Regions from separate parts of the Homo sapiens genome. Here all the other regions are linked to region 3. Evidence: fine-mapped expression QTL. A gene starts in region 3. Each other region holds a variant in brackets. All regions are shown on one strand. Distances are between the middles of the regions. Region 1 overlaps DNAJC6 (DnaJ heat shock protein family (Hsp40) member C6). Region 2 overlaps LEPR (leptin receptor). Region 3 holds the start of LEPROT (leptin receptor overlapping transcript). Region 4 overlaps LEPR (leptin receptor).

The links. PIP is the estimated chance that this variant, and not a neighbour inherited with it, causes the effect. A credible set is the group of variants that fine-mapping cannot tell apart.
Region 1: its variant is the best candidate, but not a certain one, in a credible set for the expression of LEPROT in monocytes (Fairfax 2014, PIP 0.88).
Region 2: its variant is the best candidate, but not a certain one, in a credible set for the expression of LEPROT in blood mononuclear cells (TOPMed, PIP 0.68).
Region 4: its variant is the best candidate, but not a certain one, in a credible set for the expression of LEPROT in subcutaneous fat (GTEx, PIP 0.77).

Annotation. Positions count from the first base shown.
Region 1 is chr1:65,367,743-65,375,982 of GRCh38, reverse strand. All of the region lies in intron 4 of DNAJC6 (DnaJ heat shock protein family (Hsp40) member C6), which reads right to left. Among named protein-coding and RNA genes, the nearest start is that of LEPR, 49 kb to the left of the region's middle. The variant ACC/C (reference allele first, on the strand shown) is at 3,835.
Region 2 is chr1:65,469,834-65,478,073 of GRCh38, reverse strand. All of the region lies in intron 2 of LEPR (leptin receptor), which reads right to left. Among named protein-coding and RNA genes, the nearest start is that of LEPROT, 53 kb to the right of the region's middle. The variant C/T (reference allele first, on the strand shown) is at 4,439.
Region 3 is chr1:65,416,462-65,424,701 of GRCh38, reverse strand. It overlaps LEPROT (leptin receptor overlapping transcript), which reads right to left and starts at 4,034. Exons shown (of 4, transcript NM_017526.5): 1 at 3,962-4,034. The coding sequence starts at 3,977. LEPR (leptin receptor) reads right to left here and starts at 4,034. Exons shown (of 20, transcript NM_002303.6): 1 at 3,962-4,034. RefSeq lists enhancers at 3,531-3,580, 3,654-4,187, 4,188-4,720 and silencers at 3,951-4,450, 4,471-4,540.
Region 4 is chr1:65,439,193-65,447,432 of GRCh38, reverse strand. All of the region lies in intron 2 of LEPR (leptin receptor), which reads right to left. Among named protein-coding and RNA genes, the nearest start is that of LEPROT, 23 kb to the right of the region's middle. RefSeq lists a silencer at 6,613-6,907. The variant T/C (reference allele first, on the strand shown) is at 3,510.

The sequences.
Region 1 (8,240 bases), 49 kb after region 3:
ATTTAAAAAAGAATGAATATTAATCCTACTCAAACTATTTTTTAAAAATGGAAGAAGAGGAAATACTTTCGAACTCATTCTACAAAGCCAGCATTACCTGATACTAAAACTAGAGAAGGATACAACAAAGAAGGAAAACTACAAGCCAGTGTCACTGAAGAACACAGATACAAAAATCCTCAACCAAATACTTGCAAAACAAATGCAACAACACATTAAATAGATCATTCACCATTATCAACAAAGATTCACTTCATGGCCAGGCATGGTGGCTCACGCCTGTAATCCCAGCACTTCAGGAGGCTGAGGCAGGCGGATCACGAGGTCAGGAAATCGAGACCATCCTGGCTAACACAGTGAAATCCCGTCTCTACTAAAAATACAAAAAAATTAGCCGGGCGTGGTGGCAGGTGCCTGTAGTCCGAGTTACTCGGGAGGCTGACGCAGAAGAATGGCGTGAACCCATGAGGCGGAGCTTGCAGTGAGCCGAGATCGCACAACTGCACTCCAGCCTGGGTGACAGAGCGAGACTCCGTCTCCAAAAAAAAAAAAAAAAGTTTTACTTCATTGGTACAAGGATGGCTCAATATATGCAAATCAATAAATGTTATATACCACATGAATAGAATCAAGAACAAAAAATACGTGATTATTTCAATAGATGCTGAAAAAGTATGTGATAAAATTCAACATCCCTTTATGATAAAAATCCTCATGAGGCCAGGCTCGGCAGCTCACGCCTATAATCCCAGCACTTTGGGAGGCTGAGACAGGCAGATGACTTGAGGTCATGAGTTTGAGACCAGCCATGGCCAACATGGTGAAACCCCGTCTCTACCAAAAATACAAAAATTAACCGGGCATAGTGGTAGGTGCCTGTAATCCCAGCTACTTGGGAGGCTGAGGCAGGAGAACTGCTTGAATCCAGGAGGCGGAGGTTGCAGTGAGTCAAGATCACTGCACTCCAGCCTGGGTGACAGCAAAACTCCGTCTCAAAAAAAAAAAAATCCTCAGAAAATAGATACAGAAGGAACATACCTCAAAATAATAATGGCCATCTATGACAAATCCATGGCTAACATCGTACTGAATGGAGGAAAATTGAAGGCCTTTCCTCTAAAGAATGGAACACAACAACGATACCCACTTTCGCCACTATTATTCAACATAATACTGGAAGTCCTGGCCAGAGCAATTAGGCAAAAAAAGAAATAAAGGACATCTAAATTGGAAAGGAAGAAGTCAAATTACCCTTGTTCGAACTCAACATGATCTTATGGCTAGAAAAACCTAAACACTCCACCAAAAAAACTGTTAGAACTGACAAACGAATTCAGTAAAGTTGCAGAATACAAAACCAACATGCATAAATCAACAGCATTCATATTTACTAACAGCCAACAATCTGAAAAAGAAATCAAGGAACCAATGCCATTTCCAATAGCTACAAAAAATATAAAATACCTGGGAATCAATCTAACCAAAGAAGTGAAAGATCTACACAAGAAGAACTGTAAAACTCTGATGAAAGAAATAGAAGAGGACACAAAAAAAGGAAAGGTATTCCATGCTCATGGATTAGAAGAAATAATATTGTTAAAATGGCAATACTACCCAAAGCAATGTACAGATTCAATGCAATCTCTATCAAAATGCCAATGACATTCTTCACAGAAATAAAAAAAAACCCCTAAAATGTATGTGGAACCACAAAAGACTCCAAATAGCCAAAGCCACCCTGAGCAAAAAGAACAAAGTTAGAGGCATCACATCATCTGACTTCAAAGTTTTTTACAAAGCTACCGTAACCAAAACAGCATGGTACTGGCATAAAAACAGGCACATGGACTAATGGAACAAAATAGAGAACCCAGATATAAGTCCACGCATTTACCACCAATTCATCTTTGACAAAGATTCTAAGAACTTACAGTGGGAGAGGACAGTCTTTTCCATAGATGGTGCTGGGAAAAGTGGGTAACTATATGCAGAAAAATGAAAATAGACCTATATCTCTAACTATATATAAAAATCAAATAAAATTGATTAAAAACTTGAATCCAAAACCCAAAAATATAAAATGACTAGAAGAAAACATTAGAGAAATGTTCCAGGACATTGATCTGGACAAAAATTTCTTGTGGAAGACCTCAAAAGCACACACAACCAAAGCAAAAATACACAATTGGGACTATATGAAGCTAAACAGCTTCTGCAAAGCAAAGCAAACAATCAACGAAGTGAAGAGACAACCCACTGAATGGCAGGAAATACTTGTGAACTATTCATTTGACAAGAAATTAATAACCAGAATATATAAGGAGCTCAAACAACTCAACAATAAAAAAAAAAAACAAATTAAAAACTGGGCAAAAGAGTTGAAGAGAATTAACAGATCTTCCAAAGAAGACATAGAAATGGCATACAGTTATATGAAAAAATGTCCAACATCACTAATCAGAGAAATGCAAATCAAAATCACAATATAGTGTCATCTCACTTCAGTTAAAATAGTTTGTATCAAAAAGGCAGGTAATACCAGATGCTGGTGAAAATGTGAGAAAAGGGAACTCTTATACAATGTAGGTGGGAAGGTAAATTAGTACAATCACCATAGAGGACAGTATGAAGGTTCCATATGACCCAGCAATTCCACTACTGGGTATATATCCAAAAGAAAGGAAATCAATATATCGAATATAAAGCTGCACTCCCATGTTTATTGCAGCACTATTCACAATAGCCAAAATATGGAATCAACCTAAGTGCCTACCAATGGATGAATGAATAAATAAAATGTGGTATACATATACAATGAAATATTATTCACATAAAAAAGAATGAAATCCTGTCATTTGCAGCAACATGGATGGAACTGGAGGCCATTATAACTGAAATAACCCAAGCATAGAAAGATAAATATTGCATGTTTTTTACTCATATGCAGAAACTAAAAATGTGGATCTCATGAAGATAAAGAGTAGATTAGTAGTTACCAGAGGCCAGGAAGAGGAGTGGGAGAGGGTTTGAAGGAGGAAAAAATAATATAAATGTAATTAAACTGTACACTTAAAATGGTAAAAATGGTACATTATATATGCATATTTTAACTCAAATTTTTAAAAAAGAAAAAAATGTTCAAGTGTTCTCTTGGCTCTGACTGTTTCTCTAATACTCACAGACAGAAACGCTTAGTCATCTTTATACTCATGCCCCAGTTTATTTTCATCTATTACAGCTTTTTTCAGTAGAACAACATGGTTAAATCCACAGGCTGGATTTTCACTCTGGATTTACCATTTACTACTTGATTAACCTTAGGCAATTTACTAACCTCTCCAGGCCTCAATTATCTAGTGTGTAAAGTATAAATGAGCATTACAAGATTGTTGTCAGAATTAAGTAGCACAACATAAACACAGTAAATGCTAGCTTGCGGTCAAGCTGTACTGAATAAACTGCTTATACCTGTCTCCCCTTGTAGACACCAAGCTCCATGAGAAGAGAGACCATAACTTACTCATTTTTGTAACCCCAGTGTCCACTGTGCATGTGTTGCTCATATGGTAGGTGCTCAGCAGGTATTTGCTGAGTGAATGAATGAGTGAAAGAATAAAGGAATGAACCCCATTTGGCAATCTATTTTTATAATAAGATTTGTCCACATGTACCATATCTTGAGGAGGGAACAGGTGAACCCATTTTATTGGGTTTTTTTTAGACTGTAACAGAATGAAAGTATAGAAAATTTATTTCCCCAGCAATATTTTTGAAGGTTTTAAAAACTGGCTATGACACACACACACACACACACACACACACACACACACACAC[ACC/C]CCAAATGTCAATATCTGTAATGAGTCTCAGCTAAAAGTTGGCTAAATTATTCTTAGCACAATAGGCTAATAGCTCCAGAATCATTAACTCAATCAAGTAAATAATATTAATTTAAAGTACTCCATAATTATATATTTACTTGATATATAATTATACACCATTAAGTAAACATACAATTAGAATTTTTTAAAAGCATGTGCTCTGTCTAAAAGGGGAAAACACTAAGGCATAAACAAAACCAACAAAATAAAAAAGGAATTCAATCACTGCAAGCTATTTTTGTAGCTCTCTGGGGTTCACAGCTTCATGCAGTAGCTGACACTTCGCAATGCTGTCGCCAGTTTTCCTGAACACCTTGAACATCTCCTGGGCTTGCTTAGCATCAGAGGACACCATACAGATTACAGCACTGCCATGATACCACCCAGTGGGAAAAAGAAGCCAAATCATCGCTAGAGCTGGATGCCATTCAATTTTCATCTCTCCATCATCCCTTGCCCAAGACAGGATGGGCAGAAGCAGCCATTCACTAAGCATAGGAATGAATGCTTCTACAGAGAGTATGACTTAATTGCTACATCTAGTGTTTTATGAATCACACACCATTTTTGGAGGATGGGGATAATTCAGTCAATCACTTATTGTAGCATTTTATTATTACCAATGTTAATCATAGCTACTACTTACTGCATGATGACTCTAAGCAAGAGACTGCTATCAAATTTATTCCTTACAACAAACCTATAAAAAAAATTCTAAGAGTGCTTGTGAGATAGGCACTCTCTTATTGGCATATCCATTTTACACAGGAGAAAAACGAGTCCAAGGAGAGGTAAAAGTGACTTGCCCAGGAAGAAGAACAGCTGAGATGTGAACCTAGGGTAATTTTTAAAGTCTAAAGTTTGTATACACTATATGGCTTCATCTCAGTTTAAAAAAATAAAATTTGTGCACTCTCCATTATACTACATTGTCTGATGACTGATAACAATAACTCCACCTTGCATTTGTAGAGTGGTTACAGCTTCAAGTGATGGCTGTATTTTACCAGGGTTAAGACATTCAATTCATGGAAGGCTTCATAACTAGAATGTGGGAGTCTCTGGTCCTCTGGCCCCCAGGCCAGGGATTGTTTTTTTCACTCCAGTTATTTCTTGTCCTGACACTGAGGCATGGTAGCAGAGTGAGAGATGAAATATGAGCTATAAACTTCTCCCACTCCAGCCAATCTCCCACCAACCTCCCACCAATGCAGAAACAACTGGGAGCTGTAGCGACCTCTTTGGTGTGCTCAGGAAGAAAAAGGGGTAAAAACATTGACCTTCAATCATGAGTCCTTTAAGACACCCAAGTTGATAATACATTTTCCAAAAATCAAATTGTTCCCAAAGGGAAAGAAATCCTAGAAGATTATGTCATTTAGAAATAGTTAAGAGGGTAGAGCCTAAAACAACCAGCTGGGCTGCAGATTTCTTTGCTGCTAGAAGGACTCTGTCACCATACTGTCCTTCCTGGGTAAACAGTGGAAGAAGGAGAGACAAAGTGGCCCTAGAATAGCATTAATCAGAACTTAAGAACTCTGGAATCAGGTTAGACTTAGTGTACATTCATCCAGCTTTCCATTTATTGCCAACAGTAATGCCAAGAAATGTGTAAAGGTTCCTGATATTCTGGGGCACAGCTATAAACCTTCTATGCAGAAACCAAACCAGTGTATACACGCATACACACACATATGCATGGAGTGGATGGGAACAGTGTTTATGTTGGGGATGATGAGAAAGGTTTAAGTATAGATAGCGGTGTTGGTTATGCAACATTGGGAATATAATTAATGCCACTGAAATTTTATGCTACAAATGGTTACAATAAGTTTATGTTATGTATATTTTACCACAATAATTTTTTTAAAGGAGCAGAAACAGATGGTTAAGCTCTCTGAAGCCTAGCAATAGATCTACATACACAGAGGAGTCATTATGAACATCTGGTTTAACTGATGCATCTTGTTGGTCTCCAGGACTTCATTGTCAGCATCAGTACTCTTATTTCCTCAAGGTGGATATTGGCTATAAAGAGTCAAAAAACATTAAAAAAAAATAAAAACACCTGAGGTTTCATACATCCTTTGCAGTCCTGAATAGGTATTCCAGTACTTCGCTTTTGAATGCTGGGCTATGTGCTATGCATTGTTTTGAGTTGTAGCCTCTGCTAAACTGAGACTAAACAAAGTCCTATTTTAACATTCTGTGACATATGCAAATACATAATAGAAAAATCAGGAAAACAGTATTGATCATTTCATACAATTCCTGTCAACCAATGTGGCTTCTAAGCATAAAAGTGAATCGAAATACAGAATGACAACCCTCAGCAAAGTAAAATCTTCCTGGAAACAGCCTGTCTTTGCCAACATCACTACCTACATCCTCAAATGCAGGTTTGAACATATACAAACAATCACATAATCATCATGTAAAATGACTGAATTCAGGTTTCAAGGCACAGAGGTATATGATGTGGGCAGATCCAGACTCCCACGAGTTTATAAATAAAAAATTCCTAAGACCTTATACACCCTTATGAATCTACAAATAAAACCAGTTCCATGTTTAGTATTTATGGTAGACTCTACCATCAACATTTATTAAAATAAGGTTTAATTTCAGACGTAGCACTCCACAGAACCGGAAGGAGTAAGAAATGGTTCTAGTCCTCATGAACTGAAAGGTAAAAACAAAGAAAACTTTTCTAAGTCATGCAACAATGAGATGCAAATCCATTCACAGTGTTAGTGCTGGGGAAAGAAAGGTCTAGGAGTTTGAAAAGAGATGTAGGCAAATCAAAAACAAAGGTAAGATGGAAATACTACGGCTTTGGGACTGCCTCCCTAAGATGCAACTAAGGGTAAAGGAGACAGGTCAGAGGATCCACTTGCATTCTGCCAAATTCTAGGACTATCTGGAAGAGCTAAAGATGTAGTGCAATCCTGTGTTTTAGGAGAGAGAATTGGAAAAGCCTCGTGGCATGTGGAAATCTTCTCCTTAGCAAAATTAGGCAAATAAAGAAGAAGATGGGCTGGGGGTGGTGGCTCACACCTATAATCCCAGCACTTTGGGAGGCTGAGGCAGGTGGATCACTTAAGGCCAGGAGTTCAAGACCAGCCTGGCCAAGATGGCAAAATCGTCTCTACTAAATATACAAAAATTAGCTGGGCATAGTGGCACACATCTGTAATCCCAGCTACTTGGGTGACTGAGGTACAAGAATCAGAACCCAGGAGGCGAAGGTTGCAGTGAGCCAAGATCATGCCACTGTACTCCAGCCTGGGCAACTGAGTGAGGCTCTTTTGGAAGGGAAGGGAAGGGAAGGGGAGGGGAGGGAAGAGAAGGGAGGGGAGGGGAGGGGGAAGAAGAAGAAGAAGAAGAGGAAGAAGAAGGAGGAGGAAGAGGAGGAGGAAGGGAGGAAGGGAGAGAGGAAGGAAGGAGGAAGGGAGAAGAAGAATGAGGAGGAGGAGAAGGAGAAGAAGGAGAAGGAGGAGAAGAAGAAGAAGAAGAAGAGGAGGAAGAAGAGGAAAGAAGGAAGGAAGGAAGGAGAAGGGAAGGAGAAGGGAAGGAAAACGGAAGGAGAAAGGAAAGAGAAGGGAAGAAGGAAGGAAGGAAGGAGACGAAGGGTGTGTGACATGGGTAGCTTTTAAGGGAGAAGGAGTAGCTCATGCAAGAAGATTGTGTGTGTCTGTGTGCACATGAGCACATGCCTATCCCTATTGGAGCATATGATTTTTGGGCAATGAAGAATGGTAAAAGATGAAGTTAGAGGAGCAGATAGAGGCTAGATCATCAAGAGCCTCACAAGATATTTTATGATTTGTATAGGCAAGAAATGACTCCACTCCTCTGACCTATATAAGCCTTTCTCCTGCTCTAAGGTCCAGCTGTCACTGGTGTCTCCCTTTACTAATCTCCCTTGGCAGGTATTATAAATATTATTTGTACTTATCTTTAGAACGTCCTGGGTTCTCTCGCCAACTAGGCTTAGGTGTCTTGAGAACAAAAACCAAATATTTATTTTATATCTATAGTGTTTAACAATTCTTTCCACATTCATGCTTTTTTATTTTTATTTTTTATTTTTGGGGAGGGATAGCATTAGGAGATATACCTAATGCTAAATGACGAGTTAATGGGTGCAGCACATTCATGCTTTTTAAAAACATTGATTATCTATGTCAGGAACTGTTGTTCTAGGTATCCAAAAAAAAAAAAAAAAAAATGCTCCCTCCTCTTCTAGGGCAAGTAAGAGCAGCCCAGGGTAGGTGTTTAATATGTAATCTCTGATTCCTTTGGTAAACCCTTAAGTCCAGTCACAAAATCTTTAGTTACACTGATAGATGCCTTTCATTA
Region 2 (8,240 bases), 53 kb before region 3:
GTAATTACAGGATGACTTCAAAACAATATTCAATTGCATAATAGGAGTGTGGGTTGCATGTTTTGAGCATTAATAATACTAAGAAGCCTTCCATTTATTTGGTTGAACAAAAATAGTAATCCAATGTCCACTACCCAAAATGGCCCAAGTAACTATAAAAGCTACTCTAAAGGGATGAAGAGCTGTGGGAAATGACTAAATAGCACTGAAAGCAGTACTCTGCTCTTTAAAAGTTCAAAAATTAGGCAATCTGGGTGAGAGAAAGATGTGATCTAAAGGAAACAGGACACAGCCCTGAACAAATTCCAGAACTCATAATGTGGTCAGGTTATACAATCAAGTGCTAAAACCAATTTTGGGGCATTGCTTTAAAAAGCATTCCTGTTGAACCCATTTGAGGGCAGGTGGCCTCTTCAGTATGGCCTTGCACTTGTGTATGGCACCTGCCCTTGGCCCCAGGCACAGTGTACACTCCTTTGGTGTTGCAAGTGCCTGCCACAGAGATCCCAGGTGGCATTCAAGGGATGACTCAAGGTCCCACCCATTAAAAATATACCTTCCACATGGCACTGCCTTACCCTTCGTGTAGAAGTGGAAATAGTACAGCATTTCTGAAGGGCACTTTGACAGTTGTATTCATTCAGGTATCCATCATTGGACAAAGAGATACTAAGCTACCTCTCCATGCCAGGCACTCTGTTAACGACTGTAGATACTGAAGTGAGCAAAGTAGACAAAAATCTCTGCCCTTATGGAGCTGACATTCTAGTATGTATGTGGAAGTGGGGCCACGGGGAGGTGGGGAGATAAGTTACTCTGAGGAAGCAAAGTAAATTAAAAAGTAATTAATAAATAGAAGGTAAGAAATTCTTTGGAGAAAACTTAAGCAGTAATGAGGACAGGGAATGGAGGTGGGTAAGGAAAGATCTCACTGATAAGGTGATACCTATCCTAAAATTATGTCTAAAAGATTATAGCTACAAAAAAAGAAGAAAAACTGAATGGAAACACATAAAGTGCAATTTGTGGTTATCTTTAGAAGATATTTGCGGCAATTTTCTGTACTGTGTTCTGCATATGTGTGCTTGTGTGTTTTTAATTAGTTGGAAATTTTGACAATGTACTCTGGCATCTTTATTTCTTAAAAGACCCCACCAAGCAATTCTGAGGCACAGTAAAATATAAAATTGTTTTCTTCGCACCTTACATTTTAAGTTCTATGCTCAAAAAGATTCTAGTAGTTCTGGGCATGCTGAGTTCAACATTTTAAGTTATACGTATTTTTTAATTGCCCTGCAATTCCCCTCAATTGGGTTACTGAAGAATTATATGTAAATATCTCATAGTGCATTGTGAGAAATGAGTTATGTAATCCATGTAAAGAGGTTAGCATCAGGCTCAATAAATGTTTAGCTGCCATCAGTGTTATTATTGTTAGAGGCTTAGTGGAGAACTTGCTGTTTGATCTGGACCTTGAAAAAGAAATGGGTAAAGGATGTGGATAAAGGTCAGAGGGTGGATTATCCAGGCAGGAAAAATACATTGGCAAAAACATGAGGAATGACCTCATTGTGAGCAAAGGGAAGTCTCCCTTTCATTCAGTAGACCTTTACTGAGCTATTGGACCACAAGCTCCGGGAGTTCTGAGGCTATGTCCACCCCGTTCACTGCTTTATCCCAGCACTTAGTACAGCACGTTACACAAAAAGAGCTGTAAATATTTGTTGACTGTTCAAAGTATTTTAACCACCACTAAAAGCATGTTCATTTTAGATGTGTCCTCAGGCAGCTTCTGTGACATCAGTTGTCATTTTAATAAAGAGCTAACCAGAGCCACTCTAAGAAAATGAGTTCACCAAGATATATTCAAGCTACAATAAAATGTAATAATTTTTGGATTTGTATGCAATAACAACTCATTCATCTAGTATGGTTAGGAAATTAGTAACTTATTTATAATGGAAACATCCCTTTAATGCTAAAGGTTTTCAATTCTATTTTAACCAAGTTGGATGGAAATATTTTTAATTTGGGGGGTTTTTTGTTTTGTTTGTTTTAACACAGGGTCTCGTTCTGTCACCCAGGCTGGAGTGCAGTGGCGTGATCATGGCTCACTGCAGACTCAACCTCCTGGGCTCAGGCAATCCTCCCACCTCAAGCCTCCCGAGCAGCAGGGATTACAGGCACACACCACCATGCCCAGCTAAATGTTTGTATTTTTGTACAGATGGGGTTTCACTATGTTGTCTAAGCTGGTTTCGTAATGGTGGGCTCAAGTGATCCTCCTGCCTCTGCCTCCCAAAGTGCTGGGATTACAGGTGTTAGCCACCATGCCTGGCCTATTTTTAATTTTTATTACAAATATCTGTGGCTTTTTGAACACTGCATATAGAACAAAATTGATCCCTTTAATGAATCTGTGTCAGTTATGAAACACAAGCTGTGAGCAGCCAAAGACCACCTTTGACTAACATATTTTATTAGAATGTTTTAAAGTAGTCTTCCAAATTAAAAGAAAATTGGACAACCAGTCTTGAAAAGGTCAGGGACCATGCAGCTCCAGGGTTCTACGTGGAAGGGAAGAATTCAGGATACCACCATAAGGATGAGCCAGCCCAGTAGCTTTGTGTTGGCTCTGCTCAACATCCAAATTCCTGCAAAAAGGTGACTGACTTGTCTTGGACCATAAGCTCAGCCTTGTTCAGGAGATGGGAAAGCTCCTTACATGATGGTTCCTTTGGAACAGAATACAAATTGGGAAGGGTAATTTTCTGAAGAAAAATCATAGTGCTGCCTCCAGAGGAGAGCAGAATGAATGCTGAGCATGTGAAAACACGGAAGTCCAACACAATAATGAATAATCATTTTGAACATCAATTATAGTATTAACTTGTAATTCAGTAATGTTCTTGAAAACTGATGTTTAAGGCTATCTTTCCCCTTTAATTAGTGGTCTCAGGCTTCTTTACTTTTTGAGTTTCTAATTTTTATAATTCTCTTGTCTTTTTTTTTTTCACCTTTCAAAATGATTATTTTCTTGCTACTTTTTTTTTTTTTTTTTTTTTTTGAGATGGAGTCTCGCACTGTCGCCCAGACTGGAGTACAATGGTGCGATCTCGGCTCAGTTCAACCTCCACCTCCCAGGTTCAAGCAATTCTCCTGCCTCAGCCTCCCAAGTAGCTGGGATTACAGGTGCACGCCACTACGCCTGTCTAATTTTTTGTATTTTTAATAGAGACAGGGTTTCACTATGTTGGTCAGGCTGGTCTCAAACTCCTGACCTCGTGATCTGCCCGCCTCGGCCTCCCAAAGTGCTGGGATTACAGGCATGAGCCACCGCACCTGGCCTTTTCTTGCTACTTTCAATTTACCCACTTTGGGCAGTCTCCATCCACTTTCTTCCTCTATTTGGCTGTGGACTGGGAAATGAAATAAACAAGCTTGTTAGATGTGTGTATGTAATGGGACTGTGAATAAGTATGAGTCTATGAGTAAAGCACATGATAAATGCATAGACTTGGTGTCATTTACATTGACTGCTCAAAGACTTCTCTTGCTAATGTTTAGTTGTTTAGCTACTTAGATAGTGACCAGATGAGGAATTTCTCTGTAAATGATATGCTACCAATTATAAGAACACATGTCCTTTTTATAATTGCTTTAAATTCATTTTCACCATATCATTGAAAGGAAGGAGAGGGCAAATATTTGCTCAGTTTTAAAAGTATGAAAAATGGAGCCACAGAGGGCTTAAGTACACTGGGGAAAGGCTAGTGCTGAGCCCCAGGTGTCCTGGTTTCCATTTTAGAAGTTAGTTAATAGATTCAGCTATGTCAATATCAGGAGATGTACAGAATCATAGGTCAAAGACAGCTTAAAACTTCAGAGATCACTAGGGGATACAACAAGTGTATGATATAGACAGAAAAGCACAGGGAAAATTACATATGTGACTGTAAAACACACATACGAAGCTGTTAACAGCACCCACAGATGGGAACAAACATTGATTTCCCTGTTCAATCACTTTTAGCAACAACTTGGATAAAGATACTGAAAATATGTTTAACAATTGCAGGTGACACAAAATTGAAAAAGATTACCAGTATATTTAATGAGAGAACCAAGATCCTGGCTGAAACTACTGGCTAAAATGTAATATTGATTAGACAACATGAATTTTTCAATTTCTTATAATTATAGCTAACATTCTAATTTACAAACATGATGTAGGGGAAGTCTTACTTGACAACAATCATACGGGTTTTGGTTTGCTGCAAATAAAGAAATAATAATACCATTTATTGAAGATAGTGCCAGCATCATACTAAGTGCTTTATATGTACTATGTCAAGTCTCACAATTCTAAAACATAGGCATCATCATCATCCCCACATTGTAAGTGAGAAACTGATAATTTGAGAAGTTAGATAAAATG[C/T]CCCGAATCTGACAGCTAATGAATGTTGAAACCAGGTGTCAAATCTACCTAAATCCATGTCTTAACCAATATGCTGCTGTTATTATGTAAAAATAAATGCCATTATTAAAAGATTCAAGGAAGTCTCTTTGTACTACTCATTTTAATTGAAGTATGTGATTGTCATTTTCTAGGGGTCAATAACTTTTGTATTGATTTATATTTTTATAGAGATACTGTCATAGCATATTCTGAAAGCATTGGAAGGCATGCCATATGAGAAATCAATGAGAAAACAGAAGAGTCTAAAAGGTGCCTTCACATATAGAAATTTGAAACAGGAATTATGCATGGTGTCAAGAAATTGGCCTAGGCATTGGATTTAGCCAGACTAGATCCTTCTCTCTTAGCTGTGTGACCTTGTGCCAGTTCCCTCACCTGTAAAATGTGCAGGATGATCCCTGCCTGCCACTAATGTTGCAAGTGTTACAAACAATGCATATGAAGCTCCTTGGCACAGACCCTGGCACAGGGCAAGCCGTCAAGAGTATTATCACTGCTTTTTGTGGAAGCTAAAGAACAATGGACTTTACCTCAGTATTAGGAAGAATGGCACCTGTCAGAAAGATAATTGGCTGCCTTGTGAGGCAGTAAACTTCCATCCCTGGGGGCATTTAGCCAGCATTTATGTATGTATCTTAGAGGAATACTGCACTGCATTAGATGAGTTTTTGAATTAGATGCTATCTGAGGTCCCTTTTAAAGATGAGATTCTGTATAAGAACAGATGTGCTTTGCTTCATCTACAAAAATGTACTAACCAACCAGCAGTGGGACATCCTCATCTTATCCATTCCCCATTGAGCAAAGCGCACATCCTTTCCAGAAGCCGGACAAGGTAGAGAACTCTTTGCAACCCCAGGTTGGTGCACACTCTTCATGTAGTTAAGCAGCTCTGAAGAGAAAGTGGCTTTGGCATCAATTACACTCTTTTAAAAAAGAAATATATGTGTGTGTGTGTGTGTGTGTGTGTGTGTGTGTCTATATATATACACTCATTTAATTATTTATTCTGAGAGCATTGATATTTCATCAAACATCAAATAGCAATGCTGTGTGCTATGCACACAGGTCAATCATCTACTTCATTCACCATTTACCTATGGCTATAAGTAAAAAGTATATTATATATATATTATATATATACACACGTGTGTGTGTGTGTGTGTGTGTGTGTGTGTGTGTTTTAGCCACAGCTAAATGACCCAGAGGAATAAGGTTAGTTGGATTGGGAAGAAATGGAAGGGGAAAGACTGCAAGTTAATTTCTCCATCCACTCCACCCGTTTTCCCAAATGACAGCCCTGTTTATGAATTACACCATCTGGTCTGAGTTGCCTCATTTTACTACCTCACTCTAGCATGACATTAGTGAATTGATTTTATGCCTTATGCTTTTTTAAAAAAAACGGATGTTTGGTAATACCTTCTAGATACATGATGTTTTGAAGACCTCAGTTGCTCTTTGCTTTATCTTTTGAACCAAATTTCATAGTATTTATTCACAAAGGCCAAAAAAAATTTTACTACGTTACTAAAGTTTGGAAATTCTTCTGAGGTGATGAAAAGAGTAATTACAAACTGACTTTAAGCCTTGGGGAAGTGTTTTGGGCATTTTGTTTACAGGCCAGAGAGATGAAATCTACCTCTTTGAAGTCTTCCTCTTGACACATTTCTGGCCAGACTAAAGTAAAGTAATGAGATTTTCTAATATCACGGGATGTTATGTTTCTATTTTGAACTTTGGAAAATTTTTACCATTTGAAATTTATTAAAGTCAAATTATTCTGTATTCCACATGTTACTCCTGCCTGTAAATCACTTCCCCTAGCTCATGACCAGACTATTTTCTACTCATCCTTCAGATCTTTGCCAGAAGAGTTCATTACTTCATAGAGCCTTCCCTGACTACACTATAGAACTTTGCTTGCAAGTAGATCCTTCTTGAAAACATGATTCTCTGTTTGTCCATCAAAGATTTGGTCAAAGGTCTTTTGGAAAAACAGGTCAACCAGGTCATTTTTTGACTGGCCACATGGGCAAAAGCATTCATGTACAAAGGTCATGAGCAACACAAACATTGTAGAGGCACAAGACCTGCCAAAGTTTCATTACTACATTCCCTAACGCTTTCTGGGACTATAATGTTATCAAGATAATGTTTTGGGAAAGTACAAATTATCTCAACATGTGGGTGTATTTAACCAATAGCAGTCGTTTCCAATCAGTTTGTCTTAAAGATTTGCCTTTTGTTTTTTCCATGCCCTGACCCCACAACCCCTTATCATAAATGTATGAGGGCAGGGACAAAGTCCACAGTGCTCCTCATCTTACTCCTACTGTCCAGCACAGAGAAGGCATTCAATAAGCAATCAGTCAGTAAATGAGTGGATCCTACCTTAAGTCTGGTTCTCCTTGCATGCAGACAAATTAGGAGTGATCAAACCAAGAATACATAAAAACTTTTATATCAGCAAGGGAAGTTTGATTATCACATAAGTAACTGTTTAAGCCAGCATTACTTGGTTACCAGTCATCAGGAGTATTGTCTTTCTTTACTGCCACATACAAGAACACTTCTGGAGCTCTTCCAGGGAAACTGCCTTCAGAAGCTGTTTTTTGAACCACGTGAAGAAGACTGTCTCATTAATTTTTACTCTTACCCACTTTACTGCTCCCAAATGACTATCAATCATCCACTTCACTCACCACACTTAACTTCAGATAATTCCTTATATGTTTTTAGAATTACCTAGTTATTACAAAATATTTTGCACATTTTTGAAATAAGGTTAGGACTTTCCCCTACACTGATGAACTTGGATAAAGAAAGCACTCATTTGGATATCGAGAAAGTTTGTTATTTAACTTGTTGCATAAAGTTTAATTCCTGTTACATATAGATAAAAGAGTTTTCATTATAAATCTTAATGGTAAAGTCATAAGCAATGTTGGGTAATCAGTGGTACATCATCCCACTAAAATCAGAAATTTCCCTCTGTTTGCTTATTTAGGAAGGGGAGCAAGGGTTTGGGAAGGGCCCCACTAGGGATTTACATTATTCATTCACAACTATATCAAGTTTGCCAATAGTTTCTACTAATTAATAAGTGTTTTCTCACATAATGAAAATGAGATTAGAGCTACTCACCAGGCAGAACTAGAACCAATGTTAAGTTACAAAATATCAACTTCAACATTGTTAGGAAAGACCAGCCAAAGATTACCGAAATCCTATTTAAAATACGTAGCTGCCAATTTCCTGGCCTCTGATTTTTGTGCTTTCACCGTGAGGGGCTTACCATAAATCCTAGAAATGATACTTGATCTCCTTGGTGATGGTGGTGAGGTAGGAGTAGTTATTTCAGCCCCTCTTGGGCTATTAAAATGTCAACATTGGCACAATAAGTGTTTAAAATAGAATGCTATTGTTTAGGGAGGAATGTGGTCAGCTAGTGGCCCAGTGGAATTTGAGAGTTTCAAATGAAAATAATGAACTAGAATTTAGGGGAAAGGATGTCTAAGGGAGGATAAGGAAAGCAAGCCAGGCAGAGAGGGAAACATTTCCCCCCAGAATAAAGCCTTTTCATTTTGTTGGCTGTATGCCACGCTTTAGAAGGCTTCCCGGCTGACTCTGACCTAATCTCACATCAAATATCAATGCTGTGTGCTGTGCGCACAGGTCAGGCCTGGCTTTCTCCATTTTAGCAGTTCTGGATCAGTGCAATAATCCTTGGAGGGTCAAGAGGCACTGAGAAAGAAAT
Region 3 (8,240 bases):
ACACCAGATCTGACTGCACCACAATTTTGGACTTCCCAGTCTTCAGAACTGTGGAAACTAAATGTTTGTTGTTTAAGCCACCCAGTCTAAAATATATTTCTTATAGTAGCCCAAACTGATTAAGACAATGACCCATGTCTGCCACCTTGAAATCATAAAGTATACAAAGGTCTCAAGTAATTCCAGTACCTAACCCCTATCCAATGGATGAATTCCCTCTGTATTTGTCACCAGAGGGCAGCCAGTTGGTCCACATAACTCCAGTGAAGGAAAACTCACTACCTCCCAAGGCAAGTCATTTAATTCCAACAGCTTCTAAATGTTGAAAGCCCTCCTTCTTTAAATTATATCCAGAACTGCCTCCCTGTAATATATACCTTTGATCATTTTGCCTCCCCAAACCACAGTACTGCAAGTATTTGAAGATTGTTTTCATGTCTTTGTAGGAAACAATTCCCAACTAGTGTGCACTGAATAAAATATGTATTCCCTGTATCTATTGGACACTAGTCTCTGCGGGAGTAGGAACGTATTTGCCCTTGTTGTGCTGCTGAGTGAGAAACAGAGTATCAAGGTTGTTACAAAATCTTGAGCTCTGAGTCACAAACATGAGTCAAATCTTAACTCTGCCACCATCTGGTCTTATGACTTTGGGTAGAAGCTAATCCTCTGAACCTGATTTCTCACCTGTAAAATGGAAATAATGGTGCCACCTTATTGAGCTTATGGGAATTAAATGAGATAATCTATGTAAAGTGCTTGGCAAAAGGAGGTAGCCAAATAAATGCTGACTGACTCAGGTATCTACTCATTTTAGCAATGTTCTTTGATAAAGGTAGAAATCAAAAGCATAGGAGACTATCTTATCCAAATTTTCTTCTGAAAAAAGTCCATAATACTCATAATTAGTATTAAACTAATTAATTAAGCCAATGAACATTTTTGATTGCTTCCTTTTACTTGAGAGAAGATTTAGAGAGACTCTTTAATAGGAAGGTGCCAAAGTGCTTTTTAAAAAACATCTGAAAGTATACACATGTTAAGGGACAAAGAAACACTGTCAATTTTAACATATCTTTTTACATTTCCACTCTTTAATGGAAAATGCCCATGTGTGGATGGAAAGCAAATACCACATACTATTTCATTCAGATGATCTTTTCCCAGCAGGCTTTGCTCCTCTCCTCTGTGCCTGACCATCGGCAGTACCCCCTCCTCCATGAGGCCTGTCAAAGCTAGGTACTGCAGACCTCTTCCTTCTGTTCTGATACCAGTTTCTCAACGTTCACAACCATCTTTCTGTTTGATTCTTTTTGGTCTTTTTTTTCCTCTTTTTTCAGGAATCACATCCTCTGAATCTCTTAAAGTTGGAGTTGACCAAAAATCCAACCCCATCTCTCTTTTCACTCCACGCACTCCTGCTGAAAACTTATGTTCAACCCAAAGCTCCTACTACCACAAGGGCCCGGCCGCAACTGATGCTCCAGCCCAGAGTAGGTCCTAAAGAACTAGGCCTGTACTTCCACCTCCAGTCTGGACTTCTCTGCCTTGACCGCCAACAAGAACCTCAAATTCAACATGTGTAACACGTGTAAAACCAAACCACTATCCCTACACTTTAAAGGTCCTATCTTAGAGGACTGACACCATGATTGCATTCCACCTTCCAATGAATCAGTAGGTCAAGGTGACTCAATCTCCCAGACTTCTTAAACTCTCTGCTACAGCCCTGGTGCAGGCCCTTAACCTCTTATTCCTGCCTCTGTGACTCTTCCAATCCATCCTCTACACAGCAGACAGTGATCTTTCAACTATATATATCACCGCTGCCATCCCTTTGCGGTTGCTTCCACAGCCTACAAGTTGTTCTGGCACGGAGGCTCACCATCGCCTGACTCACTCCTAACTGCCTGTCCAGCCAGCTTCAACCCTCACCACTAAGTTCTGGTCTTACTAATGTAGCTTAAGTACCTGAAGAGAAGAAGGCATGTTGTTTCATAAGCCCTGCGCCATGTCACGTGCTGTCCTCCCCACTTGGGATATACTCCACCTTCACTCCATGCCTTGCCAAGGGAAGCCACATTGATCCCTTCAGATTCAGTTCAAGCATCGCCTCTTCTGTGAAAACAGTCCTTTCTCTGGAGCAGGGGAATCAATCCCACCTGCATCAGCTTCCTAGGGCTGCCGTTACAAAGTACCACAAACTGGATGGCTGAGAACAACAGAAATTTATCTTCTGACAGTTCTGGAGGCTGGACTTCTGAAATCAAGGTGTCAGCAGCGCCACCACACTCCCTCTGAAGGCTGTAGGGAAGCACCCTTCCTTGCCTCTTCCTAACACTCAGTGGTTGCCAGCATGGTTGCCAACAATCTTTGGTGCTCCTGACTTTGTAGCTGCATCACTCCAATTTCTGTCTCCGTCTTCCCATGGTATTCTCCCTGTATGTCTCTATGTCTAAATTCCCCTCTTCTTATAAGGACACCAGTCATTGGATTAGGGCCCACCTTAAACCAGTTATCATTTTAATTTGATTATATCTGCAAAGATACTACTTCCAAATAAGATCACATTCACAGGTACCAGGGAATTAGAGCTTGAACACATCTTTTTGGAGGACAAAATCCAACCCACCATCTGTTCTCCCACCGCATCTGAGCCCAACATAAACACTGACATAGTAATATAATTATTTCCAGCTCTGTCACCCACCAATAACTTCTCATTTATCTTTGTATCCTAAGTCTCTGGCATACAGTAGTTCCTCAATAAAAGTTGAACAATCTGTAAAATGCTTCCTTCCCTTAGTCCGTTTCCATTTCAGACTTCCTTTTTTTTCACTACATCACAATTTTCTAACACATTCACACATAAACGTGATCATGATTTGGTAGTTTCTGATCATGTGTAGTACTGAGACACTACTTTTCATCTGTTTTCGGCATTGGCTTCAAATGGATATATAACACAGTCGACACTCTCCAAGTAAACCATGTTTACTAAACTGATATTAAGTATAAAAGTCAGCCAGAAATAACGATAAAATGTCTGCTGCTAACAGCTCACATACTCGGATAAATTCATAGTGAACAGAGGCGTACTCGTATATATACTATCTACATGTTTATAGCAGATGTTAACTGGGGATATCTTTGGGTGCAAATTTCAAGGATGATATAAAAGCCAATATAAAAACAAGTCATGCTACTCTATTCGACAGATTAGAAATGGAATGTTTTCCTACCAAAATACAGGAAGCCTTGCAAAAAACCTTTTCCGTCTCGCATTGCTCTGAAGCCATACAGATAAGGGACGCGGTGTTTTTACCAACTGCCCCATGCAAAAAACACATACTACACACACACTGGTTTCTTCTCTGTCCATAAACAGAGAAAACACCGAAGAAAGCAGTATTAAAATTACACGTAATCTACTCTCCACGACTGCGAGAAACACCGTCTTTCTGGGTGCTTTCCATTGACACCCGCCCGCGGTCAACTCTGCCCAGTTGGAAAAATCATTAGGAAAAAGAGGATTAAGTTTCCCAATGCTAAGAACGCTGGAGACAAAGGGTCCTTTGTGGCAAATAGGAAACTGCGGAGGGGCAGAAAACCAGAAGAAAGGCGTTAGGGTGGCGTCAAGAAGTGGAAACCTTGTTTAAAAACTCAGGAGAGGTGGAGGGCGCCGCTCTCGCCGAGGGCTCAGGCTGGGGAGGGGTCTGGTGCCGCCACTGGAGAGCAGGAAGGCCAGCGGCCTTGCAAAAAGGGCCAAGGCTCCCCCGAAACGCCGCTCCACCCACACCCCAAGGGACGAAGGGAGCGGTCGATCGCCTCCCGAACCGGAGAGGCGGGAAGGGTGGTGAGGCCGTTCCCCAACGGCGCGCGGAAGGCGCAGCCCCAGGCTTGACCGGAACGGAGGTGGCAACCCCACCACACGACAAGCGAGCCGGGGACCGCGATGTACCTTTAACGCCCGCCATGTCTCCCGAACTGGGGCCGCGGCTGCTTCCGGCTTCCTGCCACGGCCCGGGCAGCCTGCCCAAGCCAGACCGGGAGTCGCCCCGCGGATCCCGAGCCCGCCCCGGCCACGCAGAGCCCCGCCCCCGCCGGTGCAGAACTCCGACCTTAGCTCGCAAACGCGGCGCCTGCTGCTCCAGACCCCGCCCCCACCACTCACAACCCCGCCCCCGCCGGTGCAGAACCCCGCCCCCAGCTCGCAGAGGCCGCGCCTGATAGTTCAGACCCGGCCTCGCTACTCAGAGCCCCGCCCCTGACAGTACAGAGCTCCTCCCCTACCTCGCGGAGGCAGCGCCTGCGGCTCCAGACCTCGCTACCGCTACTCGAAGCCCCGCCCCAGACAATGCAGAGCTCCTCCCCTAGCTCGCGGAGGCCTCCCCTGCTGGTCCCGCCCCAGCCCTCACCGGCCCAGAATTCCGCCCCCAACTCTCAGAGGCCGTCCCTGCTGGTCCCGACCCCGCCCCCGCCACCCAGAACTCCGCTCCTGCCAGTCTAGAACTCCGCCCCCAGCTCGCAGAGTCCATCTCCAGCCCTAAGGTCCCACCTGGTCCCACAGAGCTTTCCCAGAGTAACCCCAACCCAGTGCCCTGGGCCCTCCTCCTAGATCCTGAGCCCTCCAAGTAATCCTCAAGCCCGTTCAATGTGGGTTGGGACCTTGGCTCCGCCCCGACCGCGGGCCCAGAGTCTCTCCCCGGCCTCTCAGAACGCAGTGCACGCAGCGGGGGATCCTCCCTGAGCCTTCCTGAGAACGGAGATGTAGAAAGTGGGGAGAGGCAGGAGAGGGAAGGAGGGGAAAAGTTGCAATCGATGGGAGAGGGACACCGACTCACTAACCAGTGTTATGTTCCCTGAGCTCCCAAGTGCGTGCTAGTGTGCGAGTGTGTGCCTGTCTGCCTTCACATGACTGTGGCAGAGGAGAGGCGGGGTACCAGAGGACAGGCCCCTTAGGAAACACTCCTCATTAAGAACTTGATATTTGCATAGGTTTGCTTTGCTTAATAGCAACGCTTTACTGAAACTAGCGGGGTTTTTCTTTACTCCCTGGTTTATTTATAGAGACGAAGACCATATAAGCTTTTGTGTCCGAAGCTTTCATGAACCTTAAAAAAAAAAATAAAAAAAAAAAGCTATTATTTTTGTGCCTTGGGGCCTCAAAGTTTGCAGGTAACCAAGGCCAGTTTTTAGATCTCTGAGAGCCATTGTGTACTTATCTTACAGGAATGGAGAGTTCTGTTTTGGCAAAAGCAATCTAGAAGATCATTGAAACAGTCTGGTCCAAATGCTTCAACTTACATTTAAGGAAAGAGGTGCAGAAAGGATAGGACTTGCCTGTCACACAGCTCTTTGGAGGAGGTTGGATTCTGGGCCACTTCCCCTCATTCTAGCTGAGATCCACTCTACCTGATGGTGCCGTCCCTCTTCTCTTGCTTTTTCTCCGTTTTCAAAAGGACTGAAAGACAAAGGAATCTGTGGAAACCTAGCTTCCCCTGGCTACCTGAGAAGTATAAATTCTCACCACCATCATGTTTCATGATCCTTGCTCAGTTTACTTTTTCAAAATTGCACATTGAGCATGTTACTGTTTCAAGAAATGTCTATTTGTTGATTCAGTGGAGTATTTTTCTAGCTGTCAGTTTATTTTTCTAGCTCCTCTCATTTCTCCTCATAGACGGATGGCACACTCACTGAAAACAGCATTGTAATACCTGACTCACTGCTGATGCTTGGAGATCCAATACTACAGTACAGCACTTTTTACTTTGGAGCCTTCAATCTACTCAAGAGCATTGGCAGTGTATGCCACTTTGGTTTAAGGATTATTTTGAGCTGAAGGCAATTAGGAAGAAGCAAATAGGTACACGGTACTAGAAAAGCACTCTGCCCTCCCTCTATTTGCCAAAAAGCAGGATATAAGTTTACGAAGGTGTACCTCCTTCCTGCTCTACCAGGAAAGACAAAGATTAATCACCAGAGACAATTTTAGACCCCTGTCAGCCTGGAGACAACACAAGAAAAATCTACATGATAAACCTTAGTATTTGGCCTTCATCTGCAACTAGTCTCCCATATATTTGTTTTCCGACAATTTGCTGCCCCTAGAGACTCAAGATCCTTTATCTTGTCATTTCTTTAAAAATTTATTGTTCCTTGGCTAATATGCTGTATAAACCCAAGTTCTAACCAAATCTTTGAGTTGCTTATCTCTGAGTATTCCCATGTTACCTATATGAACAACGCACGTGTTGATAAACTTGCTTTACTTTTGTTCATCTGTCTTTGGCCAGTCTAATGCACAAGGACCCAGCCGGAGAACCTAAGATAGGTAGAGAAAAAGATTCTTCCTCCCCTACAAGAGCTTGTTTCCCTATCATATTATTTCTAATACCTATTAGAGCACTCAAGGGAACCTGCGTATCAGACAAGCCCTGGAAGTCTGTGGTTTTTAGCTTTCTTCGTGTAGTGCTAAGCTACTCTCATGGGGAAGATATTCTATGGGGTTAAATTTCCCTCATTCCCCCTTCCATTTCCAACCACCCATTCTGTCTCCAGAGAGCCTAAATAGGGTTTGCGGGAGCCTTCCACATCAGCCTGACTCCAGTCCCACAGAAGATAAGTGATTTTAGAGAAAACTGACAACACATCAGAAGCAGAGTTTGGTTTGAGCACCCTAGGCTCAGGAGTAAGATATTGGAAGGTGGTATGAAAGAAAAAGTTGAGGTGTTTGCCCCAGGGTAATGTCTGGAATTTAAAAAATGCTGGGACAGTGTTTGTCTTGAACAAGTTTTCTGCCCACGCCAGCTGTCCTTTCCAGGTTACCAATCACCTTAAAGAGAAAGTTAGCTATTTTGCCATAGGCTTTAACCATCTGAAAAAAATCTGCTTTTCTTTTGCCTGATGTTGCACTGAAAAAAACTGTTCTTCTACTTACTCCTTCCACATTTTCTCAAAAATAAGAGTCATCAAAAACAGAAAGTAAAACCCTAAAAACCAAATCCTTATCCCCAACTTGCCATTGATATGTTACTTGTAAGATCTGTGACCTCTGTCATGCTGCCTAGGACTACAGTGGACTTACTGGGATGAATTTTAATATTCTCTCCTTGCATTCAATAGTCTCGCATGATAAGCTAGGTTTTATTGCCTCTATCTTACAGATAGGAAAACAAGCTCCCAGTAACCAGTGAATAGGGAAGCTGAGATCAAGTCCCAAACTGTTCAGCTCTAAAGTCAGATGGTCAGCACTTGTACTATTCCCCACAGTAGATCTTATGCACCAAGAAGCAAGAATTCTTGTAGTAATTAGAAATAACAGTAACCTCTTATGCTTCACAGGGCATCAAATCCATTCACTGTCTTAATTTTCTCCAGCATATCTATTAGCATCTTGCATACAGTATACACAAAATGTTGGCTGAATTAACAAATATTAATAAGTTTACCATACACAGTATCATCTCTCCCTATCCTCAGAAAAAAAAAAATATATAGCCTCAAGCTCCAGCTCTGGGTAAATTTCTCCATGCTTTAGCTTCCTGAGGTAAGATTTACAAAAACCTGTCTCAGAATCTTTGGGGGAATTAAGTGAGAAAAAAATATATATAAAACATATATATATATATATGGTAACACCTAGGGCAGTGCACACAAGATAAATGCCAGGATGTTATATCTACACTGGGGTAGGCTTGCAAGTCAGTGCATAAGTTAAATGCAAGAATGATGCAACACTAATTGAAATCCGTAAATGTTGGTTTTCCTTCCTAATGCTCAATCACTACTTCTTTTTACATAGCTATTCCCTTTACAGAAACTACAATGCAAACCTCTTTGCCATTTTATGTAGACAGATCTCTGTAAACCCAAGGAGATAAGGAATAAGGACCAAGGTAAAAGTAACTTTGGGTTGCCTTTTCCTACTTGTGTCACTCCCTAGAATATGAGGTTTCCATGTAATTCCAGCTCCAATACCCACCTACAGTGATATACTTTGTCTTATTTACTATCAGTAACAATAACAATAATTACTATTTAGTGAGTACCCGCTTGTTAAGAGTTTATATACACAGTTCTTAATTCCTCCATTGCAGGGTTGTTAGAATTCTATTTTACAGGTGATAAAATTAAGACTCAGTTCAAGAAACTTGTCCAATATAAGAGTCTGTAAGGCTTGGCACAGTGGCTCATGCCTGTAATCCCAGCACTTTGGGAGGCTGAGGCTGGAGGAT
Region 4 (8,240 bases), 23 kb before region 3:
TAGAACTCTAATGAAAGAAATCAAATAGAAACTAAATAAATGGAGAGACAGTCCCTGTTCATGAATAGGAAGACTCAACAGATGGTGCTGGAATAATTGGATTTCAATATACAAGGAAGGAAGGAAAGGAAGGAGGGAGGGCCTTGATTGATCACTCATACCCTTTACAAAAAATTAACTCAAATGTATTACAGACCTAAATCTAAAATTTTAAACTATAAAACTTTGAAGAAAACATAGGAGAAAATCATCACGACATTAGGCAAAGATTTCTAAGAAGATGCCAAAACTATGATCCATCCAAGAAAAAAAAAAGATGATAAATTTAATCCTAGCACTTTGGGAGGCTGAGGCAGGTGGATCACATGAGCCCAGGAGTTTGAGACCAGCCTGGGCAACATGGCGAAATCCTGTCTCTACACACAATACAAAAATTAGCCAGGCATGGTGGTGGGCACCTGTAGTCCCAGCTACTCAGGAGGCTGAGGTGAGAGGATCACCTGAGCCCTGAAGGTTGAGGCTGCAGTGAGCCATGATTGTGCCACTGCACTCCAGCCTGAGTGACAGAGTGAGACCCTGTCTCAAAAAAGATAAATTAGATTTTATCAAAAATTTAAACTTCTGCTCTTCCAAAGATGCTAAGGATTTGAAAAGACTCCCACATCATCTAGCAGTTAGGAAAAAGAAAAAAGAAAAAGAAAATTAAAAGACCAGCCATGCACTGGATAAATATTTGCAAATGAGATATACAATAAAGCCTTGAGTTCAGAATATATAAAGATCTTTCAAAACTCAGTATTAAGAAATCACACAACTCAATAAAGAAATGGACCAATAATTTCTATAGACATTTTACTGAAGATAGAAAGATTATAAATAAGTACATTAAAAGATTCTTAACATCATTAGTCAGAAGGGACCTCGCTGATAAAACAGGTTGCAGTAAAGAAGCTGGCCAAAACCCACCCAAACCCACATGGCAATGAAAGTGACCTCTGTTCGATATCATTGCTCATTATACACTAATTATAATGTATTAGCATACCAAAAGACACTCCCACTAGCGCCATGACAGTTTACAGATGCCATGGCAATGTCATTACCCTATATGGTCTAAAAAAGGGTAGGAACTATTAGAATGGCTAAAATTTAACAACTGACAATTCTATTTACTGATGAGCATGCAGAACTAGGACTCTCATACATTGTTGGTTGGAATGCAAAATTGTACAGCCACTTTGGAAAACAAAATCCCAGTTTAGTACAAAGTTAAAAACAGACTTACCATTCAACTCAGAAATCCAGCTCCTACATATTTACCCAAGTGAAAAGACTCATTGGTATATCAGATAAAAATACAGTCAGCACCTCAACTAATAATATCTCTGGTCATTACGCAATCTCATTTGACTTAGTGGTATCTCACAAAATAGGATGACAATACTTTTCTTAGTTGGAAAACAATTTTATCCTAAAAAAGATTTAAAATTAAGCATAGAAATATTGAAAAGAACCCCATAATATTAATGGTTTTGTGTTAAATCTGCATATTTGATTACTTTATGTCCTTAAAATGTTAAGAGAGTTTCACCTGTTCCTGTTAGCAGGTTAATTTACAACATGTAATTGAGAATTGATTAAGTCTTCTATATTAGTTGAAATTTCTTAAGTTCACTTGCAGAAATGGCATGTGTAGAAAAAAAACAAAACTCTAAGTTCAGTGTGTGTTACAAGTTAGAGATTCTTACTTAAAATTGCTAATACATTGAAAGATTTGCTGTTTAAAAAAAAAAAACTCTATTCAGTTAAAGTAATCACCAAAAGCTCCACAGAAAAACAAGTATTGGCTGATCCTGGTAGTGAGTTTCGCACAGATCCACTCATTATCTTCACGTTATAAAGACTTTAAGAAGGAAGATAAAATTACAGCCAGCACCCAGTGATGTCTTACACCATAGTGGATACGTGAACAAGATGTGTCATTTGGGGTTCGAAGGACAGAAGGAAGAATGATACTTACCAGCAACTTTGCCCCACATGCAGTATATTAACCTCTCTAAGCAAGTGACATTCCTTTTACCAAAAAACAAACTAACAAACCTACCTTAATTCATAGTTGACCTTTATTTATTTATTATTGACTTTGTCCAAATATACATTGAACACAGCCAGGAGCAGCATTTACAATCTGTGCAGCTTGGCAAAGGGCTTTTTGACTTGTGCTGCCCGTAAGAAGAATTAATTTAAACTCAGTTTTCAGCCATAGATAAGGTAAACTGTACCTTGGATGTACCCAAGATGGTACCAATTTACACCTATTGTCCCAACATAATGGATAACACCTACTTCTGCTCTCAAAAGTGTCCCAATTAGGATGGCAATCCATAGCCTACACATCTAGCTTGCAGCCCATTTAGATTGGCATCTGTAGAGTACAAAGTCGCTGCCCTTGAAGTCAAAAAACTTGGGTCTGAGTAACAGTCAGGTTATTTGTCATCTAAGGCAAGCCCCTTAACCTTGAAGAGCCTCGAGATTTTCCAGTGATGCTGCTGCTTTTTCATTGTTATATGGACCTAATTGACACAGTTTTGTAAACTCTTAATGACTATATGAGCACACATTATTACAACAATAAAGCAAGAGGATGTTAGCAAAAGTAAAAATTGTAATAACATAAAGAATTCAAAATATTTAATAATTTTTAACTCAGTGCCACTTTTCTCATTTAAATAAAGTTATTCATCCCTTCCTCCTTTCCTCTCCTTTGTTTTCTTCTCTTCGATATTTTTTGAGTCCCTACTACTTTGCTGTAGGAGCAAAGGGATTTCCCTCCCCACCCCACCCCCCGCCCGCCTCCACCCTTCTGAAAGTTTGTTAATCTGAGTCTATAAAAGAAACTGACAATAGCCAGATTCATGGGAGACAAAGTATACACATTTATCACATGCACATGTGCACAGGAGCCACACAAACTACGAGACTCGAAGAATCAAAGAAGGGCCAGATAGTTGAAGCTTCAATAGCATTTTAAGCTACAGAAAGAAATAGGGTCCTAAAGGCTCCTGCAGGGAGGTAGCAACACATTATGAGAGGGTGTGGGGAGGAAAGGCATGGTGAGCAAAGGCTGTCTTGTGATGCAGATGAAGTCTCTCTGGGAGCAGCCCTCAGAAGGAAGAGATGCAGCAAAAGTTTCACTGTCCAAACTTTAAAAGTATCAGGTCTTAACACCGCATATTCTCACTCATAGGTGGGAATTGAACAATGAGATCACATGGACACAGGAAGGGGAATATCACACTCTGGGGACTGTGGTGGGGTCGGGGGAGGGGGGAGGGATAGCATTGGGAGATATACCTAATGCTAGATGACACATTAGTGGGTGCAGCGCACCAGCATGGCACATGTATACATATGTAACTAACCTGCACAATGTGCACATGTACCCTAAAACTTAGAGTATAAAAAAAAAAAAAAAAAAAAAGTATCAGGTCTTTAGTCTCCTTTTCTTA[T/C]TGAGTTCCTTTTTCCTGATCCAGATAGGTGGACCTCAGAGAAAGCCTCTGTGTCTGTTCTTTACCTCACCAATGCAGATTTCCTCTACAGATGCAAATCTACCCCCAAAAGAACAGCTTTTCAGAACTATTCCTGTCTGCTACTTCTCTGAATAACCAACTGAAAATACGCCAAAGAAGTATATTTTGAGGTGACATATTTTGGTTTCCCACAGTGTCAGGCACTATTCTAGGTACTATATGAAGAAAGGATTCCAAAAGAAGACCGAGATGTGGCTCTGTCCAATATGAACTCATCCAATCATTTTTCCAGTATTCATTGAATGCTTAATACTTTATCCCTTAGTATTTAAATATAGTATATCTTTTTATATATTTAGAGCTTATATACCCAGCAAAAAATTTTTGAAATTTTTCTCCAAGTATTGCACATCTTTATAACATCAGATATAGATGTGTATATATAAAATTATATATATATATTATAATCATTTATGTAATTGTTCCTATTGAAAATTTGGAAAATTGCATTTTCAGAGACAGGGTCTTGCTATGTTGCTCAGGCAGGTCTCGAACTCCTGGGCTCAAGTGATCCTCCCACCTCAGCCTCCCAAAATGCTGGGATTATTGGCTTAAGCCACTGTGCCCAGTGCATTTTCTAATTAGTTAGTACTGGTGTTTAGGAAAGCAATTGATTTTTTTGATACTGATCTTTTATCTAGTAAGTTTTATAAGTGTAATTTTTTTCTAATAGTGTATAGATTCTCCTGGATTTTCTAAGTAAATAAGAGCATAGAATGCAAATAATAATCTGTTTATTCCTTTTCAGTCTTTCTGCCACTTACATATCTAGCACAATGTTGAAAAGTGGTAAGAGTTGGCATATCAGCCAATTGCCAGAATCAGACTGTTGCTATTAATTTTTGCATGTCTATTACTGCCTTGTAATATGAGGTCCTCAAGATAGGGGCTGGTACTTCTTCCCTCTAGGTCAGTGATTCAGGATCCTCAGGCTCCTGAGTATGGTCTCTGTGTGCAGTCTCCCTTGTATAGTAACCCTCCATAATGTGTGCTGAACTGAGTCAAATGTCACATCTGTGCCGATTTTCTAAGCTTCTGCAGGCACTGTTATTTGATCTTTGTATTCCCAGGTTGGTTTTGTTTTTGGAGGCAGGGAAGGCATTGCTTTATTTTTATTGAGGTATATCATATTTTATTGAGTGTATATATTGTAAGTATAAAACCAAATAAACTTGCACAAACTTAAAACTGCTGTGTAATCATCATTAGATCAAGAAACAAATATTCCAGCTGTTGATGAAAAGAGTCAGACTCTGTAAAATATTTAAAGAGGTTTATTCTGAGTCAAATATAAATGACCAAGGCCCAAGGTACAGTCTCAAGAGATCCTGAGAACATGTGCCCAAGGTGGTTGGGTTATAGCTTGGTTTTTATACATTTAGGGAGACAAAAGATATTAATCAATACATGTGGGATATATACTAGTTTAGTTGGAAAAGGCAGGACAAACTCAAATCAGTGGGGTGGAGTAGGGGAGGGGTCATAGGTCATAGGTGGATTCAAAGATTTTCTGATTGACAGTTGGTTGAAAGAATTAAGTTATTGTCTAAAGACCTGGAATCAATAGAAAGTCTGGTCAAGATAAGGAGTTGTGAAACCAGGGATCCTATGCAGATGAAGCCTCATAAGGCACCAACCTTTTGGGAATCACCTTTTCATTTTATTTTATTTTTTTAAAAAGGGCTTAAGTCTCATATAGCAGAGTCCTCCCAACAAATATTTCTGAGGCATTTGGGGTAACTTATTCTCCTACTCACCTCTTGGTCCATTTTACTCTGAATGCTTTCTTTACCCTGTGTCTCACGCCTCTTTGCTGTCCTCTTCTCTCTCAGCCCACATTAACCCCACTTGCAAACCATTCTCCTTTTCTTCACTCTCCTACCCCTCAGTATACCTGAACACCACAGTGAACAACAGTATGTATCACAGGCTTTGAGTGGGAATCTGGGGCAAAGGAGGGAGAAGCAATGGGAAAAGGGGAGAGGGTTTCACCACTGCTCTGCCAATATCCTTGTTATCAAAAATTCTTAGGCTGTCACCCCAGAGGGTCTCCCTGGCACTGTTTTAGCCTCAGGCTCCAGCCCTTCAGTGGCCAGGATTTCTGTCACCTTTTCCCTGGATTTCTTCTCCACTGGTGTTAGTGTATCACCCCTCCCCCACTTCCCCTTCGTCATTCTGATGCAAATCCCAAATTCTCCTCACTTTATTATCTAAAACATTTCAAATCCCTTCCCTGTCGTGGGCCATAGCTCTTAACACTCAAATGGCTTATCTAAGATTAAATAAACAAAAAAGTTTTCTTCTCGGAATTGTGCTACCAGCCATTAAAATGATAACTTTCCCCCTGCTCCACTATATGAATTAAAGGAATACAGTCCAAAGGCTAGGACTTAGAAACCACTTTCCTTTTATTGATAGCTTAAACCTAAGGAAGTGTGAGTCCTGAAAGCAAATATGCCTAAATGGCACCAAAGTCAGCTCCTAGGGTCACCACCTGTATGTTTCAGGACTCTCTCCCTTGTCCCCCATCACTCTCCCCACCCCTTCTGCTAAATCAGATGTTAACATCCTCATCTGCAGGCCCCAGGGACAGACACTCAAGTGGTTATTGCTAAGGATGTGGCACACCAAGCTCAATGCTATTAGGACATAGTTTCAGCTATTTGGGGTTTACACAGCATTCTTTGCCAACTTCATTGAAAACATGTTTTCATGAGAATTCATCTCATTCTACCTACTGCTGGCTAAATTTATCTCCACAGAGTTTAACAACATGGAATGATTAATTAGGGACCAAGCTATTTCCTGAGTGCTTTGCACATAACTGTGATTCTGTGACTCTGTGATTCACTCTCGTTGCTTCAGCCATCTGTCCCTGAACAAAATGCATTTATTTATGTTTTCTGTGATTTGTTGTTCTCCTCTTTCAAAGACATAAACATGATTGATTTGGAAAAGCAAAATTGTTTTTTCCTCTCTTTATAAAATAGTTTTAATTAAAACACAGCTAGAGCAATCCGAATAAAACATAATCAGGCCACTCCTGCTCATATCTCTAGTGGCGTCTCATCTCTAAATGAATGCCGACGCCTTACAATGACCTGCTGGGCCCCATAGGATCCATCCACCCCTACACACACATTATCTTATCTCCCTCCACTCTCCCTGAAGGCTTCATGCCAGCTCACAGGTACGCTCCAGCTCAGGGCCGCTGCACTTGCTTATCCCTCTTTTTGAACCATCTTGCCCATTGCCGCCTCCATAACTGCCTCTACTTCCTTCAAACGTCATCTTCTAGGTAAGCCTTTCTTGGGCACTGTATCTTAAACAGAAGCCACCGTCACCCGTTCACGCCCACACGCACACTCACACATATTCTACATCCCTTTCTTCCTTTTTTTGCCTTAGCATTTCCACTAACATACCATCCATTTGACTTATTTGTGAAGTTTATTTTTTGCTTCCCTACCAAAAAAAAAAAAAGTAAGCACCATGGGGGCTGGGGGTTTTGTCTGTTTTATTTACTGTTCTATCTCCAGCACCTAGAATAATATAATTATGTTGAGCACATAATAGGTGCTCAACAAATATTTCTTGAAAGAATAAGTGAAAGAGTAGACCTAAAATTAAAAAGAATCGAAAGAGTAGACCTAAAAATAGGTCCCATCGTGTTGATTCCTTCTCATTATTCAATAGCTCTATTCAGCCACCAATCGTCTCTATCCACCCTATTTAAATAGCACCACTGTAAGTCATTCTCTATGCCTTTATCCTGATTTATTTCTTCATAGCATTCACTACTGTCAATTTTCTTTTTCTTTTTTTTTTTTTTTTTTTTTTTTGAGACAGAATCTCTCTTCCTCGCCCAGGCTGGAGTGCAGTGGTGCGATCTTGGCTCACTGCAACCTCCGCCTCCGGGTTCAAGTTAGTCTCCTGCCTCAGCCTCCTGAGTAGCTAGGAGCTGGGATTACAGGCACACGCCACTGCGCCCAGCTTTTTTTTTTTTTTTTTTTTGAGATGGAGTTTCACTCTTGTTGCCCAGGCTGGAGTGCAATGGCATGATCTCGGCTCACTGCAACCTCTGCCTTCAAGTGATTCCTGGGTTCAAGTGATTCTCCTGCCTCAGCCTCCTGAGTAGCTGGGATTACAGGCATCTGCCACCACACCCAGCTAATTTTTTGTATTTTTAGTAGAGACAGGGTTTCACCAGGTTGGCCAGGCTGGTCTTGAACTCCTGACCTCAGATGATCCACCTGCCTCAGCCTTCCAAAGTGCTGGGATTACAGGCATGAGCCATTGCACCCAGCCCAAATTTCACTATTGAATTATTTTTTACTTTAAAAATTATTTGTCTTGCCCATTTGAAGGTAAGCTCCATGAGGGCAAATAATTTGTCCTGTATCTCCTCAGCTTAAAATGTTTTTATTTTTTCCTTAACATCAAAAATCATTTGACCATATATTTTTGGGTCTATTTCTGAATTATTGATTCTATTCAATTGATTTATATGGGTGTCCTTTCTCCAATATCGCATTGTCTAATGTATAACTTTGTAATAAGTTAGAAATCAGGGAATATATTAATTTCTCCTAAAAATCTTACCGGGATTTTTACTGTGATTGCTTTCAATCTATAAATCATGTTGCGGAA